5 linked regions of the Homo sapiens genome follow. The protein of the gene in region 5 interacts with the protein of the main gene of each other region in a pairwise test. Each region holds a gene or a part of one and is shown on either strand. Other genes may lie near its edges.

Region 1 (3,601 bases), on a different chromosome or scaffold from region 5:
CTGCCAGGAACAGTCTTCCTCCTCTGTCACTTCTTGACAATGTCCACCCAGCTGCTGCTCCTGGCACCATCTCCTGAGACCGGATCTCTGGATGCCCACAAGTCCCCACCTGGACTCATGTCAAAACAGTGGCCAGGGTTGTCCCTCCACCCTCTAGTGGCCCTGAACCATGAGGCCATGCACCTGCCACATGGTGCTTGCAGGTGGGCACCTGCATTGCTGGTGCCATGGCCCCCTGATTCTGCTGACTCTGACATTTCTCCCCAGGGTGAAGCCTGGAGACCCTCTTGCCCTGGCCTAGCTGCAGGCCCCCGGGATGCTTTGGGCATGTCCTCTGGAGCCCCACAGAAGAGCAGCCCAATGGCCAGTGGAGCTGAGGAGACCCCAGGCTTCCTGGACACGCTCCTGCAAGACTTCCCAGCCCTGCTGAACCCAGAGGACCCTCTGCCATGGAAGGCCCCAGGGACGGTGCTCAGCCAGGAGGAGGTGGAGGGCGAGCTGGCTGAGCTGGCCATGGGCTTTCTGGGCAGCAGGTAGGCCTGTGCACCCCCAAAGGGGACGGGGAGTAAGGGCACGGCACCAGGGCCGACAAGGGATGTGGCTGCTGCTCCCCTACACGTCCAGCCCCACACGGGGATCTGCAGCCCCGGATCCCTATGCAGCACCATGTGGAACTCCCGTGGCTGCTATGGCAAAGCACCACACACTGGGCACTCAACACAGCCAAAGCTCATTCTTTCACAGGGCTGGAGGCCAGAGTCCAAGATCAAGGTGGCAGCTGCGCCATGCTCTCTCAAAGGCTGCAGGGAAGAGTCTGCCTTTCTGTTAGTGCCTGGCCTTGACTTCCTGGAGGTCCTTGGCTTGTAGACTCATTCCTCCTAGCTGGCCTTGTTGCACACGGCATCTCCCCATGTGTGTGTCTGTGCCTTCACACCTCCCCACCCTGCCTGCTGTGTGTCTGTGACTCCTCCTCTTGTAAGGACATGGGCATTTTGGACCAGGGGCTGCCCTCCTACAGTGTGATCTCATCTTTCTTTTTGTGGAGAATGGGGTCTCGCTATGCTGCCCAGGCTGGTCTCGAATTTCTGGGCTCCATGGATCCTCATGTTTTTGCCTCCCTAAATGCTGGGATTACAGGCATGAGCCACTCCAGCCAATGTGACCTCATGTGAACATAACTAATTACATTTGCAAAGACTTTAACTCCAAATAAGATCATATTCTGAGCCACAGGGGGCTGGGGCTTCAACATACCTTTTAGGGAACACAATTTATTGCATAGCAGCTGATAAGCAGTACGTCCTGTTTCCGATCCGTGTGATGGACGAGGAGGCAGAGGTGGGTAGATGAAGAGGCTGGCCTGAGGCCTTACAGTCAAGGAGTGGCAGAGCCACATGGCACCCCAGCCACCACGATCTGAGAGATAGCTGGCACTGTCCCCCTTCCACAGGTGAGGAAGCTGAGGCACAGAGAGGTAGCACAACTAGCCGAGCAGATTTCGGGGAAGATAGAGAGTTGGGTGTCCACCGGCAGACAGTGTGTAGCTGTCGCCTAGGCTGAACTCAGAGGTCCTTTCCTTGGAAGACCCTTGCCCTCCCCTTCATTTATTCATTCATTCTGGAAGCATTTGTCCCATGAAAGATGGTGAAGGACAAGGTCTTTTCTCGAACCCTCTCTGCTCAGACAGGGTCTTGGAGTTAGGCTGTCTGTCTGGCACAGGGGACAGCTCATGGAGGTGAGCAGGCTGGTGGGCCGCGTGCTGTTTCTGTGAACCTAGTCCCTTGCTGAGGGGATGTGCGCATGGTCCCCAGTCCCAGCATCACCCAAATCACCTGAAATATCACCTGAAGCCATGACAGGCCCTCAGCCATAGCTCCCTCTGACAGAGCCACCATCCTCGGTGGCTGCCTCAGTATCCCCCAAGTGTGCACTTCCTTTGCCCCTTGCAGCGAATCAACTCTGTTCCTGACACCCACCAAGGGCCTATTTTCCTTGACCCCAGGCCCTAGCAGAGTCAGTGACTTGTGCTCTCCCTGTGCAACATGGGCACAAACATTGCTAAGTGTCAGCCACATGCAAGGGCTATGCCACCCAGCATCCCCCACAGCTGCCTAGAGCTCAGGAGGAAATGTCCGGTGACCACGCTCCATGAGGTCATGGCATGCGCAAAGGGTGTTATTGGCTTGTTTTGAGGAAATATTTTAGATATGTGGCACAAAGTGAATCAGCCCCCAGTGGTGGAGCAGAGTGGGCCCAGCAGGGGTGCCAATGCACGGGAGGTGAGGAAAGGCCTCACGTTCTGCCTTCTTGAGAGGAGCAGGTGGCACTCTGCAGGGAGCAGGGGAGTCCAGACCAGGGAGTTCTGCAGCCACTGGGTCTTCGTGGAGGTGGCATGGGGCCATTGCTGCCTTGAGGCAAAAAGCCAGGCCCGGGACAGAAGGGTTGGTGCACTTTGGCCCAAGCATGAGGTGACCGGGCAAAGCCAAGCGGTGCCAGCCCCAAGCTGGGGATCAGATGGAAAAGCCATCCCGGGGAACAACAGAGCCCAGGGGTTTGCTGGGCCTGCGTGGGGCACAGGTGCTGAAGACGGACAGGCCGCAGCACCGGGGTGACAACATCAGCCTTCAGTTCCTGGGCAGGGGGAGAAGGGCGCAGAGCAGGGTCCCAGGGAAGGATCCAAGGTGGGAGGGCCTGGAGGGCTGAGGAGTGAGTAGGCAGTGCAGGTGACCTGCCCAGGAGGGCCCCGAACCAAAGTGTTGGGGTCAGTGCTGGGGGCGCAGGGGAGGGCAGTGGGTTTTGGTTTTGATGCGAGAGCAGCCAGACTTGTTGAGCGGCTGCTGTGTGAGCCACCTAGTGATGGGTGCGAGCAGGAGGGGTGCAGAGCTCCCGAGTCTCCTCAGCCCCCAGGAACCCACCTTACATGGTGAACTAAAATGGAGTATTTGAAGTTGTTATATGTTCCAGCCATCTTATTGGATTTATTTTTTAAGTTATTTTTGTTCTTTTCTAGCATCTTCTTTCACACGCAGGTGTGGATGTGCATAGGTGTAGTCAGCACTTGGGGTCTGAGCCTCACACGTTGTCTACACTAAGCCTGGCTGTCCACACACACGCACTCACATGTGCCCATACACAGTCACGAGTTCCACCTCCGAGCTCTGCTTCCCGTGTCCCAGCCTGAGGAGGGGCTCTTGGGCATGAAGGGCTTTGAGCATCTTGGTCCCTGAGCTCTTTCACAGACCGTAAAAGGCATCCTTCTGGAGGCCATCCAGGAGTCAGAACATCCAGTCCACAGGGGGCTATTTACGCCTTGTCTCCGCTCTTGTTTGGAGCCTCCTGTCACATATTTGAGTCCCTGAGCAGTGCATACCGTACACTAATGATTTGAGTGTGGTTTTTGTCTCTGCCACTAGACTATAAGCCTCTTGTAACAGCCCCTGCCCCAAGGTCGGTGAGACGTGTTTCTCAGGCACCTGGGCCTTGCATACACCTTGGCTTGTCCCTGGAGCATCTTCTTGCCTTGTGTAGGAGCCTGCTCTGCAGGGACCAGAATCAGGGTGGATCTGCATGGTGCAGTGACTCAGGGCTGAGGGCCTCTAGG
Region 2 (4,032 bases), on a different chromosome or scaffold from region 5:
CTGAGCCTATCGAGCAGGTGAAGGGAAGGGGTCTGCCTCTCCCTGGGGTGTGTTTCACAGCTCTGCTGCAGGCAGCATGATGCAGGTGTGGCAGGTCTTCCTAAGGCCCTGCTGTCTCTGTGCTTGTCCCTGGGGTTGCTGTGGTGCCCATTATGCTGGCTTCCAGGAAGCTTTCAGCCACTCCCTTTCCCAGGCCTTCTTCAGAGGCAAGGTGCAGGAGCATGTCTAACAATTTAGGACTTTGTATTTGACATCAGCTTCGCATGGGCATATCCTGTCTCTTTAAAGAGATGGTTCTTAGAGGGGGAAAATGGGAACCCTCCCTACTCTTATACCAGCCTCCTCAGTGACTGCCAGCACAGTGGGCTCTGGTTCCATGCCACTGGCTCAGGACCTTATGATTTGGGCATAAAGTCAGAAGACTGAGGAGGAAGACTGTACAAATGGTTCCCACTCAGAGGGGCTGGAAGGAAGGAGAGAATTTGGAAGAGCAGCAAGAAAAGGGCTCTGTGAGCTTAAATGGAGAATCAGGCCAAGGCACAGCTGAGGGACACAAGTCATCTGCCCAACTAGAGCTGTGGGACCCCTCAAGGGAGGCCTCAAGTGCCAGACTTGGGGACTTGCCATTTGTCCTATAGGGCAGTGCACATTAGACCACCTGAGAAGCATGCTGAAAATGCAGATTCATGCTCTTCACCCCGAGAGTCTGACTGTGGGTTTGGAGAGGGACCTGGGTATCTGTACTTTAAATGAGTTTGCTGGGTAGTTCTGCTGTGATGGTCAGAGGACTGCCTTGGGGAATGCTATAAGCCTATCCATCCATTTCCCAGGGATCCCCTGGAATTGGCCCTCTGGGCACCTGCCCTCTAAACATCCTCTCCCTCTCTGCAGTTTTCCATGGACACAGCCTAGCAGAAAGACGCAGCCTTCGTGCTTCGCTGACTGCTGACCACTGACCCACCGCCTTGATGACAGCACCCTCGTGTGCCTTCCCAGTTCAGTTCCGGCAGCCCTCAGTCAGCGGCCTCTCGCAGATAACCAAAAGCCTGTATATCAGCAATGGTGTGGCCGCCAACAACAAGCTCATGCTGTCTAGCAACCAGATCACCATGGTCATCAATGTCTCAGTGGAGGTAGTGAACACCTTGTATGAGGATATCCAGTACATGCAGGTACCTGTGGCTGACTCCCCTAACTCACGTCTCTGTGACTTCTTTGACCCTATTGCTGACCATATCCACAGCGTGGAGATGAAGCAGGGCCGTACTTTGCTGCACTGTGCTGCTGGTGTGAGCCGCTCAGCTGCCCTGTGCCTCGCCTACCTCATGAAGTACCACGCCATGTCCCTGCTGGACGCCCACACGTGGACCAAGTCATGCCGGCCCATCATCCGACCCAACAGCGGCTTTTGGGAGCAGCTCATCCACTATGAGTTCCAATTGTTTGGCAAGAACACTGTGCACATGGTCAGTTCCCCAGTGGGAATGATCCCTGACATCTATGAGAAGGAAGTCCGTTTGATGATTCCACTGTGAGCCATCCCACGAGCCCCTGCATTGGAGTCAGAGGTACAGATCTATTGTTGATCTTACACCAAGATCCAAACTTGAACATTCTACTTTTGTTGATACAGAAAAAAACAGATGATGCCTTTTATGAGCACAAAAAAGAGTTGCTGTAGCTTTTAACTTTATAATCCATTTTTTTTAAGATTAAACTAATTGTGAGATGGTGAAGATAAATTTTCTGCCCTGTGAGTGACACTGGCCAGGGGATAGGTTGAGGCAGATGGTGCCCAGAAGAAAGAGGGCAGCACCCATTGCACATGGCAGGCCTGGAATCCTGCAGCCCTCCCCAAAAACAGATTGACCCAGGAATGAATCTGCTACAATTCCACCTCATTCTTTCACACCCAGAGCCAGAGCCTTAAGCATCATGGTACCTCTTGCGCTTCTTACAGTGAGTGCCAATCTACTAGATAAATGGCCTTCAGGCAGTGCTCCAGGAATCCTGGGGGGTCCCAGGCCACCTCTGCTTCCACCTTCACTATAAGTGGCCCAGTTCTGGTTTTCTAGATTGTACTTATGCATAAGATAGTTTTTAAAGAAAGCATTCCACTGTGTAAATTTTTTTTTGTCTTTTTTTGAAACTGTCCTGCTCTGTCACCCATCCTAGAGTGCAGTAGTGTGATCATGGCTCACTGTAGCCACAACCTCTCAGGCTCAAGTGATCCTCTTACCTTAGCCTCCTGCGTGGCTGGGACTACAGATGTTTGCCACCATGCCCGCCTCATTTTTTTTCTTTTTTTATAGAGATGAGATTTTACTATGTCGCCCAGACTGGTCTCAAACTCCTGGCCTCAAGCAATCCTCACGCCTCAGCCTCCCAAAGTGTTGATGAGCCACTGTACCCCGATACCACTGTATAAAAAATTTAAAAAAAATTGTGAGTGCTATTGTACATGGCAAAGTTTCAAAGAGCTCTTGGCCATCCCTCACCAAACTTTGGCAAAAGATGGTGTTAGTCCCCTTCTCCAGGGCACATGAGAAAAACAGGCCTAACATCAGGTCTCAGCGGTTCCTCTCACAGGCCTTGGCTTGGAAGGCTGGAGCTTCGGACCAAGGCCCAGCCCTGTCACCTCCTCTTCATGTGATGTGGACCCCTGGGAGCATCAGTGTCCTCATCTGTCCAATGACAGCCCTTTTCTCACAGAGTTATTGTGAAGATTCAACAATTTCTTGGCATAGTGCCTGGCACATGGTGTGTGCTTAGCGCAAATGGCAGCTCTCATCATGAATGATAGACTCTTTCACCCTGCTGGTCCCAGGTCGGCACACACATCCCCATAATGGCATTTCTCCTTTCTGTGCACAGCACTTTATTGTTACAAAGTACTCTTCCAAAAAGTTACCCTGTGTGTAAAAAAAAAAAAAAAAAAAAATGGTTTAAGTCCTTTCAGACCCTACCTCACAGGAGGCCTAGACTTAGAGCCTTTTGAGAGCTTCCGTCTTGTTTAATCTAGGTGCAATCTAGAGGTCCTGAAACAAGGAGCACAGTTCCAGCTTCCCCCAATCACTTCTAAACAGTGACTGCAGCCTTGTTTAGAATCACTATGAAAACCTGCACCCCGGCTGACTACTGGGATCCATAAGGGGGCCGTGTCAAAGGGACTAACTAGTGGACTCCATCAGTAGGCCCTGGAATTCAGGATTGTTCACATCCTCTTGGTGCCAAGGACCTGGCTGAAGACCAGCTCTTCTGATCCAGAGGTTTTCAGCAAACAGCATTTGAAACAAAAGCACAGCTGCTCTGTTTGACACCAAACTGTGGCTCCAGATTCCAGTAGAAGCCAAATGCTTTTTCTTTTAACAGCTGGGTGCCTGTAATCCCAGTTACTTGGGAGGCTGAGGCAGGAGAATTGCTTGAACCCAGGAGGCGGAGGTTGCAGTGAGCCGAGCTTGCACCATTGCACTCCAGCCTGGGCAACAAGAGTGAGACTCCATCTCAAAAAGAAAAAAAAAAAAAAAGAAAAAGAAAAGAAAAAAAGAAATGCTTGGGACCAGAAATATTTTGGATTATTTTCAGGTTAATATTTGCTTTACCTGAAGCAAATATTACTTGAGCATCCCAACTCTAAAATCCAGAATGCTTAAATGAGTATTTCCTTTGATAGTCATTTCAGCTCTCAAAAAGTTTTAGATTTTGAGCATTTCACATTTTTGGATTTGAGATCCATGAATGGGTCTCAAACTATATTTCACTTGGCGGGGGGGTGGCTATTGTAGATTTTTTTTCCAATTGCTCATTATTAGTATATAGAAATACAATTGAGGCCGGGCGTGGTGGCTCATGCCTGTAATCCCAACACTTTGGGAGGCCGAGGTGGCCAGATCACTTGAGGTCAAGTGTTCGAGACCAGCCTGGCCAACATGGCAAAAGCCTTGTCTCTGCTAAAAATACGAAAGCAGGGCGTAGTGGCAAGTGCCTGTAATCCCAGCTACTGAGATTAGAGAATGAAACAGGAGAATTACT
Region 3 (3,601 bases), on a different chromosome or scaffold from region 5:
AGGGATATTCAATCCGTATAGATATTCTACATAGTCAAACTTTAATGGACTTACTCAGTTGCAGTTAAAATAGGTAGATCTCATTTTAATAAATATAGCAATGTTCTTGCCACTTCTAAAAGATTCAATGCTACTAATTCTCTTTGAGTTACAACGTGGAACATATCATAGATGTCTTTCCCCAATACTTTGCCTATTCAGAAGTCAGTATACTTAAATTGTGTTTGATATATCCATAATTTAATTTGATGTTCTTAGGAATTTAACCGGTTTTAAAAGGTCATTGATTTTGAAACTGGAAGATTTTTTTGACAGTTGAGACATGGCTAAGAGTAAACCTGGTCATCTTGATGATTTTTGCTTAGTTGGAAAGATAGGGAGTTAGTAAAAATAAGTACTAGGGAAAGGATAGGGCAGGTAACTATAGACATAGCCGTAATTTATTTTGTAAAAGACAGATGTAAACAAGGTTATTGTCCATATAATTTGCTATTCACCAAGTACTAGTCTTCCAGATGGTTTTAGATAATTTACATTTTTGAAATTCCCACTGTACTTTATAAATATACATACAGTATTTATCACATTAAATTAAAGTATTTGTTTAAAGGTCTATCTCCTCAATGGGAGGCTGAGGCAGGCGGATTACATGAGGCCAGGAGTTCGAGACCAGCCTGGCCAACATGGCAAAACCCCGTCTCTACTAAAAATACAAAAATTAGCTGGTTATGGTGGTACACACCTGTAATCCCAGCTACTCGCGAGGCTGAGGCGCGAGAATTGCTTGAATCTGGGAGGTAGAAGTTGCAGTGAGCCAACATGGCACCACTGTACTCCAGCCTGGTTGACGGAGTGAGACTTTGTCTCAAAATGAAACAAAAACACGCACAAAAAAAGGTCTAGTTCTTCAAAACTTCTTTTCTTGAAATGTCACCATGGTCTTATTAGACAGGAAAAGCCTCTGTGGCAGTTTATTTCCCACCCTAGGTAACCATAATATAGCCCATATTTCTTTTCATACCATTATCTAAAAACAACAACAAAAAATAATAATGGAGATAAACCTAAATGGATAAACTCCTTTTTAAACACTCATTTACTGTTATTATTTTGTGGGAGAGGAGTGGGGTCTTGCTCTGTTACCCAGGCTGGAGTACAGTGGCGCGCTCTCATAGCTCACTGTAACCTCAAACTCCTGGGCTCAAGCTGTCTTCCCACCTTAGTCTCCCAAGTAGCCAGGACTACGGGCACACACCACCATGCCTGGCTTAATTCTCAAAGTTTTTGTAGAGATGGAGTCTGGCTATGCTGGCCACATTTACTTAAGTATATCTTTTTATTAAATTCAAATACAGTTTAAATAAAAGGGACAAATTTAGGGCCTTTGTAATTAGTAAACGGTTTGTTTTTGTAAAGTTTTTCTACTGTTTTTAAATGTGAGGTAAGGTCATAATTTGCTTCATATTAGGTTGGTGCAAAAGTAATTGCAGATCTGCCTCTGAAAAGTACAAAATCTATTCGCTGTTACGTTAGGGCTCTATTTTGATAGTTTATTTTTATTTAGTAGTAGTCTATTGGGCCTTCAAAACTTGTTTAAGCATATTTATACATAATTATGTGCATCGTCTTGTGCTTTCTCACATTCATAAAGTAGATAGGAAAACTCCATAGGCATCAAGTGTAAACGAAGGACTTAATGTTGAATTTGTTGTGGAAATTGGCACAAATCTCAATATAGAACATTGGTTAATTATTAATCTTACCAAATGCTTATCTCACTTTCCCTAACTCAAGTTATACTCAAGAAATACAAAGATAATTGAATTCTAATCTATGCTGACATAAAACTTGCTGCAGAAATTAACACTTAAAACTTGCAAATTATATTGTCTTAGCCCAGGCTGCTCAAACAAAATACCATAGACAGGGTGGCTTAAACAACAGACGATTATTTGAGTTCTGGAGGCTGGCAAGTCCACAGTCATGGTCCGGCTCTGGTGAGGACCCTCTTGCTGGCTCGCAGATCCCTCCCTTCTTGCTGTATCCTCACACGGCCAAGAGAACGAGTTCTTGCCTCTTCTTACAAGGGTACAATCCTGTCATGGAGGTTTCTACCCTCATGACCTCAATCTAAAACTGATTATCTTCCAGAGACTCCACCATCACATCTTGGGGGTAAGGATTTCAACATAAGAATTTGAGGTGATGCAAACATTTAGTTCATAACACATATAAATTATTTTTTTTTACTTTGCTCATGAATTATTAGTGCTACTGTTTTGTACTATTTAAAATGCAGAAAATGGGAATTAAATATATAGGATTTAAAACAATGTGTCAAGAAATTCAAGGTTATCTGATTCTCATGCCATCGTGACTTGTTAGTTCATTTATTGAACAGGTAATTATTGAACAACTTAACTAGTTATACATACTTGATACTTAAGTGAATTGTATTATACATTTTACACATACTATGTATCAGTGAACAAATAAAAATCTTTTCTGTCATGGAACTTAATGCTCTAGGTAATAAAATAACATCTATAAACTCACTTAAACTTATCACTAGCAAATGAAAACTTATTATCTGGTAATTTCTAGAATTGTCATGTTAAATTGCTTTAAGTATGGAGCCAAAAGCACTACAGGTTGAGTATCCCTAATCTGAAAAATCTGAAATGCTCCAAAGTGAAACTTTTTGAGTGTCAGCATGACAGCACAAGTGAATTCCACACCTGACCCCATGTAATGGGTCACTGTCAAAATTTTGTTTCATGCACCAAATGACTGTATGAAATTACGTTCAGAGTATATATGGTGTGTGTGAAACATAAATGAATTTTGTGTTTAAACTTGGATACCATCCCCAAGACATCTGAGTATGTATATGCAAATATTTCAAAATCTGAAATCTGAAACACTTCTGGTCCTACCTTGGGACCAGCATTTTAGATAAGGGATACTCAACCTGTATTGAATATAATAAGATGTCATTGAAGTTGCCATTTTTAACTTCAGGAAAATTTTTAAATGGTAAAAGGTTAATTAGATTCTGTGAAGTATGTAAATTAATTCTGACTCTTAAAGTATACTGGGAGAGGCAAGGAGTTGTCTAGAGATTTGGGTTCCAGTACTGCTGTTAACTAGGTCGGTGATGTCCAAGTATTTGGTAATGTAACTGTTTTATGTCTTAGTGGTTCTCTCTAAACAATAAAGATTGCAGTCAATATATATTAACTACCATTTATTAAACACTTGCTGTGTGTCCCAGGTGCTATGCCAAACATCTTACATAAAGGTTCCATCAAGCTCTAAAATTGTAGGTATGAAATATCCCTGTTAACCTTTTGAGGACATTAATGTATTAATCTTGAATCATTGAAATATCTTGCTGCCCACTTCAGGTATATTATAAAATTAGCTTTAATTCCCTGGACTTAAGCAGAGATGTGGGTTCTGTGTATTTTCAAACATCTGTGTTATATAGTAAGATGATGTTTGATATTTTAAAATATTTATCTTCCCTGTCCTCCCCCTGCTTTTTTTTTTATACAGCTACCTGTACTACAGAAACATGGAATAACCCATATAATATGCA
Region 4 (4,039 bases), on a different chromosome or scaffold from region 5:
AATTATGAACTAAATAAAGTGGTTACTGCTTTAAGCCCCTAATGCAGCAAAAGCTAATTAATAAAGTGGTTAAACTACTCGAGTCTCCCTAGTCTTCAGTTTTCACAATTACAAAATGGGATTTTACATATGTTCCTTACATGGTTATTAGTAAGATTAAGGAGGATAATGCTTGCAAGTTGCTTAGCAATGTAACTGACTCACAATTAGCATTCAAAGAGTGCTTATTTTCATGTTTTCCTTGGGGTGTCTGTTAAGTCAAAACCAGAGTTATTTACCCAAGAAAATATAAACTTCTACCTTTGAATTTATTGTAAATAATGTTGGAGTTTGTTATGGAATTCAACATCAATTTATATAAAACTAGAATGTCAAGTCTCCAGAAGAGGAAACAGGCACTCGGCAAGATCAGCTTAAATGGACCAAGATTAAGGCCGAAAGAAAATGTATTAAGCAACTGATATGTGCCCAAACATTACTGCATGCCTTTATTTACAATATTTTGTTTATTTATTGAAATACTTCTAAAATATAAATATTATCCTTCCATCACAATTGAGGAAATATCATTTCCTCAATGAAGGAAATATAATCCTCAATTATCCCTCATTTTTTAAAAAAGTTTCTAAAATACAAATATTATTATCACTCAAACTACTTGAGAAATAAACTTCAAAGTGCCCAAGATCCTATAGCTAATAATTAATACAGCAAGAATAAGAGGCAGGCATTTCTCCTTTAGTTCCCAGGTTCTTTCCTTAACACCTGGTCCATGTGTCTGGGATGGTCTCAGGAAGCCATTGCAAAATTAAGCCAAAAGATGATAGTTAATGTCCACTATTCATATAAAGTGAGACTCGCAAAACCCACCTTCCATGCTTGAGTGTTGCCCAGCAGTTCCTTTTATTGTGTTCTGGTAACTATGAAGTGCCACATAAGGACACCGTGTGTCTTTAAAAACACCCTTTGCATTGGAAGATTTCAGCCTCTGAAAGCTTCACGTATTGCACTCCAGCCTAAGAAGAGGAAGTCCTGCCAGCCCTCAGGTCAGACCTCTCAGGTCTGTGGCTGCATTTCACAGGAAACCAAGTCTAAAACGGACCTATCAGGAGGTTTTCTGCTGAAGGGCACTGCTTAGCATCGAGAAGAATTCAACCCACCGCCTTACTAATTTCCAGTGCCCCAAGGTCTCTGCACTGCCGCCCCTCCTCACAGGAGACGGACACCTCAGCCTAGATCCCTTGGTGCTCTCCACGCTGTTCAGGTAAACTCATTAGGCCAGTTCTTCTGAGTGAGGATCTCATGGTCATCTCCTTGTCATAAATGATCATCAGGAAAGACCTGAGCAGCAAGTAAAAATGTGTTTCTAAAGTGGAAGTCTGGGCCTTATATATAGCATCAAAGGAGCAAGAAGAAAGCCCTTAACTCAATTGTTAAAGATCCTTTCATTCTTTTGGGAGAAAGAATCAGGATACCTACCCACAGAAAATTAAAAGACTAAATGTTTTCAATCTTCTTTTCCTGGAGCTTGGACTCCCCGACTGTTTGCAACTGAAATCTAAAGACCAGGCCCCATGGCTGGCTTTCCTGGCTGACCTTCATTAAGTAAGCCCTCTAGAAAGAAAGCCTCCATTCAAAGTAGGTCATTCAAAGTATAAGTTAACTCCTGGAGCCCTGTGGAAATATATTTTTAACATTTTCTAAAGTAATACGATTTTCTTTCTGCTTTGGTGTAGAGGAGACTTAGACTTTGGAATCACGCAGACATCCTTCCACTCACAAGAGTAAGGAGCTCAAAAGTGAGGTTAAAGTTGGGGTTAAATTCTTACTCTTGAAAAGTGCCGGGAGTCATCTCTACCAGGCTTTTATTGGATAAAGCAAACAAACTGGAATGAGACAGAAAAGAAAATAACTATCATCAAAATATGGATACTTTGATTTTAAAAGGTGTCGATATGCCTGAACTTTTTATCAATACTGTTTTTATTACTTTACACCAGTGTTACTCATTTGGCTTCTCTGTTATGAGTATTACTTGTCTATTACCTACATGGCTATTTCTCTGGCTGTCTCTGTCTATACTGTGGCGCAGCTCCTCAATAGTGTTGTTCTTTGGATTTCCAGGGGCCTCCCAAACCACCAGGAATAATCATTTCAAATATCAAGAAGACGATGGTAGAGCTGGTTAATTGAAGGCCTACCAGAGAAATGACAGCGCTTCAGAAATCCTCTAAGAAGCTTAAGATACAGTATGCCCTAGAGAAGTAGGAATGGCAACTGGCATTTACTTACCTTCAGCTCCTGCTGACCTAGAGAGCTGGCTATTACTTTCCCTGGTTTACAGGTGAAGAACTTGAGTTCTCTAAGTAATATGTGCAAGGTTGTTCAGTCACTAATGTCAGTAACAGAATTCAGAAGGAAACTGATTTTCCTGGCTGACTGATTGGAATGGTGAACAGTGTTAGTTTGCAGTTTCACAGAGCTCATCCCTAAACTCACTCCTGGGTGGTCTCTGACACCAACCATCTAAATGGTAGTATTTCTTTGTTATTCCCAACAAGCCCTCTCAGATGACTGTATAGGCAAGACCATTTGAAAGCCAGTGCTTATAATCTTCTGTACCATCTGGCCAGCTCTGGCCTGAACACCAGGGGATTCTGTTTCTCGATCACTTTGCCATGAGTCAGGTGCTGTCTTAGAAAGACTGTAGGATTTGACGCCTGATCAAAATGGTGAGGATCCTGACTCTGCCACTTGGACCAGGGATGTTGTTTCATATATGATCCTCATTTCCTCCCCCTTTTTAATAAAGTAAGATCTCATAAGACTTGTATTGACAATTATTTAGCCTCAATAATATAATATTTATATTACGTGAAATATGGTGCATTCTTAACACTTAGCAAGTATTCAGTAAGTGTTGACTTCTTTCTCCATTACTTTCCTTTCCTCACTCCAAATCAGTTCTGATTTTATTCTTAAAACATGACCACAATCAACATAGAATTGATTAATACACATAAGTTTACAAATATTGTATTTTAATAATCTCATTAGAGAATGGTAATATTCCACAGTTGTATAGCCCTATGTAATGTAGGCCTTTGAATACATATTTTCTTCTTGAATGATCTTAACAGCTTAATGAAGTAGGCAGAGCACGTATTAGAGCATTTAAAAGGTGAAACTGGGGCTTAGAAAAGATGAGGAAGGACAACATGGTGAAATGGAAAGAAACAGGGCTTTGAGATTGTCAAAAATGGACATGAATCTAGTGTGTGACTTTACTGTTCGTCTTTAGGTAAGTAGCTTAACCTCTCTGATCTTTAGTTAGCTGTTGTTGGAGTTGTGTAATTTGAAACTGGGAGGAAGAATACATTTTGTGTGTTGCTTCGAGAGTGAGAGCAAATGTGCACACAGTGTCTGACACAGAAGAGATAGCCAGGAACTGGCTAAATTTTCACATGAAGAGTAGCAGACAGAGATCTAGAAGCATCCTTTTCTGAATCCTAGTACATGGAGCAGTTATATCCACTGTCATAAGCTACTGCCAACATCTGCCAAGACTTGAGTTCTGCAGAGTTCTTCTAGGCTGTACCTACCCTCCTAGCATGACAAAGAAACATAAAGTGTTCAAAGCGGCTAAATTACTAACCAGAGAGATAAATACCTGAATTTAAATTCTATTTATGATTTTTAACAGATTAAACCAAACATTCACGATTTTACCAATAAAACTGAGAAGCATCAGGTTAGATATCAGCAATAACGAAAAAATCACACACACACACACACACATACACACACACAAACAGAATTGTGGAATAGAGCTATCATAGGACCAATTTTTGTGTTTATTATTTATTTTTTGTTACTCTTATGGGCAGAATATTTGGGAATCATTATTGTGATTATTCTGCTTAATTTTAATCATGTCTTCCAAAGAGCAATGACTTACAGGTTACCATTTAAGTGTTGCTGATAGACAAGAAACGCTCATCATTTCTCACTTTTTAAGTAGGTGTACTTAATTCTTACT
Region 5 (3,601 bases):
TCCCAGCACTTTGGGAGGCCGAGGCGGGCGGATCATGAGGTCAGGAGATTGAGACCATCCTGGCTAACACGGTGAAACCCTGTCTCTACTAAAAATACAAAAAATTAGCCAGGCGTGGTGGCGGGTGCCCGTAGTCCCAGCTACTCGGGAGGCTGAGACAGGAGAATGGCCTGAACCCGGGAGGTGGAGCTTGCAGTGATCGTGCCACTGCACTCCAGCTTGGGCGAGATCGTGCCGAGATCGTGCCACTGCACTCCAGCTTGGGTGACAGAGCGAGACTCCGTCTCAAAAAAAAAAAAAAATCCAAGGGTGCTCAAGTCTCTTATATAAAATGGTGTCGTATTTACATATAACGTACACACAACTTCCCTGTATACTTTTGTTTTGTTTTGTTATGAGACAGGGTCTCCTCTATCACCCAGGCTAGAGTGCAGTGGCACAATCTTGGCTCACTGAAGCCTCAAATTCCTGGGCTCAAGCAGTCTTCCTGCCTCAGTGCTCTAAAGTATGAGGATTACAGGCATGATCCACTATGCCCAGCTTCTCCTGTATACTTTAAATCATCTCTAAGGGCCAGGTTTACGCCTGTTATCCCACCACTTTGGGAGGCAGAGGGAGGAGGATCGCTTGAGCCCAGGGGCTCAAGACCAGCCTTGGCAACACAATGAGACCTCCACCTGTACAAAAAAAAAAAAAAAATTGCCAGGCATGGTGGCACGTGCCTGTGGTCCCAGCTGCCCAGGAGACTGAGGTGGGAGTATTGCCTGAGCCCAGCAGGTTGAGGCTACAGTAAGCCATGATTGTGTCACTGCACTTCGGTCTGGGTGACAGAGTTCAAAAAAAAAAAAAAAAAAAAGGGCAGGATGCAGTGGCTCACGCCTGTAATCCCAGCACTTTGGGAGGCTGAGGTGGGCGGATCATGAGGTTAGGAGAGCGAGACCATCCTGGCTAACATGGTGAAACCCCATCTCTACTAAAAATACAAAAAATTAGCCAGGCGTGGTGGCAGGCGCCTGTAGTCCCAGCTACTTGGGAGGCTGAGGCAGGAGAATGGCGTGAACCCGGGAGGCAGAGCTTGCAGTGAGCCGAGATTGCACCACTGCACTCCAGCCTGGGTGTCAGAGCGAGACTCTGTCTCAAAAAAAACAAAAAAATCTGTAAATTACTTGTAATACCTATTACAATGGAAATGCTATGTAAATAACTGTTGTATTCTTTAATTTGTATTCTTTTTTATTGTTGTATTGTTTTTAATTTTTATCTTCCCCCAGTGTTTTTGATCCTCTGTTGAGGGATGTGGAGCCCAGGGATAAGGAGTATATCTGGCAAAGCAGCAACTCAGACTCATTGGCAGGCCCTGTGGCCCTGGATGAACCTCTTAGCTTCTCAGCCTCTTCTATAAAGGGACATCCTAGAGTTGTGCTGAGGATTAAGTATAATGAAGTAGGCCGGGTGCAGTGGCTCACATCTGTAATCCCAGCACTTTGGGAGGCCAAGGCAGGCGGATCACCTGAGGTCAGGAGTTCAAGACCAGCCTGGACAACATGGTGAAGCCCCGTCTCTACTAAGAATACAAAAATTAGCTGGGTGTGGTGGCACACACCTCTAATCCCATCTACTCAGGAGGCTGAGGCAGGAGAATCACTTGAACCCGGGAGGTGGAGGTTGCAGTGAGCCGAGATCGCGCCGCTGCACTCCAGCCTGGGCGACGGAACGAGACTCCGTCTCAAAAAAAAAAAATACACACACACACACACACACACAGCCCTTTCTTGGTCTTCCCTCTGTGGTGTGCTTCAAAGATTCCTTCAGCTTTACAGTCATTCCCAACAATAGACATTTTACCTACTGGGACCCTCCATTCCAGTCCAGCTGGAATATTTGCCATCTCCTAACACATATCTGGTTTTCTCCCACCTTTCTTTCCTTCGGGCCAGTCCCCGGTTGTACATTGCCTTCTCCTGTCTCTCTGTTGCCCAGCCCCACCGCCTCTTCTTCCCTGAAGCTGTCCTATCTCTCCTGCCAGAAGGTAGACACTGTAGAACTTCTGGACTGTCATTCTTGCGACACCATCCATATTTTTGCCCCTATTGGGTTTTGTTTTAATTTACTGAGGGGCTCTCCCATAGAGTTTAGTACAGTACTTATTTATAATGGGTTCTTATGTAGGTGGTTTTTTTGTTTGTTGTTTGTTTGTTTTTGTTTTTTTTGAAATGGAGTCTGCCTGTGTCTCCCAGGCTGGAGGCATTGGCACGATCTTGGTTCACTGCAACCTCTACCTCCCAGGTTCAAGTGATTCTCCTACCTCAGCCTCCTGAGTACCTGGGTTTACAGGTGTGTGCCACTGCACCCAGCTAATTTTTGTATTTTTAATAGAGACGGGGTTTCCCCATGTTGGCCAGGCTGGTCTCGAACTCCTGACCTCAGGTGATCTGCCCACTTCAGCCTCCCAAAGTGCTGGGATTACAGGCGTGAGCCACTGCACCCAGCCGATATAACAGGTCCTCATATAGGTTTATTTAAAAAGTGAATGAACCATTTGGGTGCAGGGCAGAATGATCAAGGGTGGAGTTAAATATCCCCTTGCATCCTAGGCATGGGGAGTCTTTTGCACCCTCCCCAGCTTCTTTGAGTTGGGGTTGCCTGTTCCTCCTTGCGCCTGCTCTACGGTGACCAAATTAAGGATCAGACCTTCCTTCCCTGATCCTGGGCTGGCTGGTTTTGGTGGTGGTTTTTCTCAGTTTTGATGTGGTGGGTCTTCTAGCTTTCTCCAAGTTCTGTGCGTGGGTAAGCACCGCTACGTATGAAGCTGACTGCAACTTAAAAACTGGTGCTAAAGTTGCTTCCTCAGAGAACTGGGTAGGGGCCTAGAGTATCTATAACTGTGCTACTTGAAGAAAGACCCAGGGCCACGTGGCATCAGCATTCCTGGGAGCATGAATCAGAATCGCAATCTGCAATTTATTTATTTATTCTTTTTGAGATGGAGTCTCACTCTGTCGCCCAGGCTGAAGTGCAGTGGCACGATCTTGGCTCACTGCAACCTCCACCTCCTGGGTTCAAGCGATTCTCCTGCCTCAGCCTCCTGAGCAGCTGGGATTACAGGCGCGCACCACCACGCCAGGCTAATTTTTTTGTATTTTTAGTAGAGACAGGGTTTCACCATGTTGGTCAGGCTGGTCTCGAACTCCTGACTTCATGATCCGCCCACCTCAGCCTCCCAAAGTGCTGGGATTACAGGCGTGAGCCACCGTGCCCTGCTGCAATCTGCATTTTAACAAGATGCTCAGGTGACTCTGTACCCCAGAGTTCCAGAAGTCCTGGCCTAGGCATCCTTCTTTATACAGAATCTCAAGGCACAGAGCTTTCCTGTTGCAACAGTATAAATTGGGAGCTGAGATGCTGCACAGTATTTGAAGATTTGCTTTAAATAACTCACTTTATGCGAACACTCCTTGGGGTGATGTGTACGCTTTAATATTACCTCCTTTGGGTTTAAATTGAATTAGATTTTGTCAAGAAATTTCTCCATTAAATGTGTGACTCTAGGAAGTCTGCAATATTCAGCCTGATGTTTAGCTCCTCTCAGAACCTCAGCTTT

What was found.
Region 1: the proteins of PTK7 (region 5) and PPM1F interact in a two-hybrid assay, tested with the Homo sapiens proteins (one study listed by BioGRID and IntAct).
Region 2: the proteins of PTK7 (region 5) and DUSP18 interact in a two-hybrid assay, tested with the Homo sapiens proteins (one study listed by BioGRID and IntAct).
Region 3: the proteins of PTK7 (region 5) and STYX interact in a two-hybrid assay, tested with the Homo sapiens proteins (one study listed by BioGRID and IntAct).
Region 4: the proteins of PTK7 (region 5) and CLNK interact in a two-hybrid assay, tested with the Homo sapiens proteins (one large-scale study listed by BioGRID and IntAct).

Annotation. Positions count from the first base shown.
Region 1 is NC_000022.11:21,942,775-21,946,375, reverse strand, and holds part of PPM1F (protein phosphatase 1F), read left to right. Parts: intron 1-267; 5' UTR 268-327; coding exon 328-533; intron 534-2,941; exon of another isoform or gene 2,942-3,601. UniProt on the Homo sapiens protein: Dephosphorylates and concomitantly deactivates CaM-kinase II activated upon autophosphorylation, and CaM-kinases IV and I activated upon phosphorylation by CaM-kinase kinase. Promotes apoptosis.
Region 2 is NC_000022.11:30,660,940-30,664,971, reverse strand, and holds the end of DUSP18 (dual specificity protein phosphatase 18), read left to right. Parts: exon of another isoform or gene 1-17; intron 18-891; 5' UTR 892-968; coding exon 969-1,535; 3' UTR 1,536-3,527; downstream 3,528-4,032. UniProt on the Homo sapiens protein: Can dephosphorylate single and diphosphorylated synthetic MAPK peptides, with preference for the phosphotyrosine and diphosphorylated forms over phosphothreonine. In vitro, dephosphorylates p-nitrophenyl phosphate (pNPP).
Region 3 is NC_000014.9:52,747,125-52,750,725, forward strand, and holds part of STYX (serine/threonine/tyrosine-interacting protein), read left to right. Parts: intron 1-3,558; coding exon 3,559-3,601. UniProt on the Homo sapiens protein: Catalytically inactive phosphatase. Acts as a nuclear anchor for MAPK1/MAPK3 (ERK1/ERK2). Modulates cell-fate decisions and cell migration by spatiotemporal regulation of MAPK1/MAPK3 (ERK1/ERK2).
Region 4 is NC_000004.12:10,681,893-10,685,931, reverse strand, and holds the start of CLNK (cytokine-dependent hematopoietic cell linker), read left to right. Parts: upstream 1-1,163; 5' UTR 1,164-1,264; intron 1,265-4,039. UniProt on the Homo sapiens protein: An adapter protein which plays a role in the regulation of immunoreceptor signaling, including PLC-gamma-mediated B-cell antigen receptor (BCR) signaling and FC-epsilon R1-mediated mast cell degranulation.
Region 5 is NC_000006.12:43,079,214-43,082,814, forward strand, and holds part of PTK7 (inactive tyrosine-protein kinase 7 isoform a precursor), read left to right. Parts: intron 1-3,601. UniProt on the Homo sapiens protein: Inactive tyrosine kinase involved in Wnt signaling pathway. Component of both the non-canonical (also known as the Wnt/planar cell polarity signaling) and the canonical Wnt signaling pathway.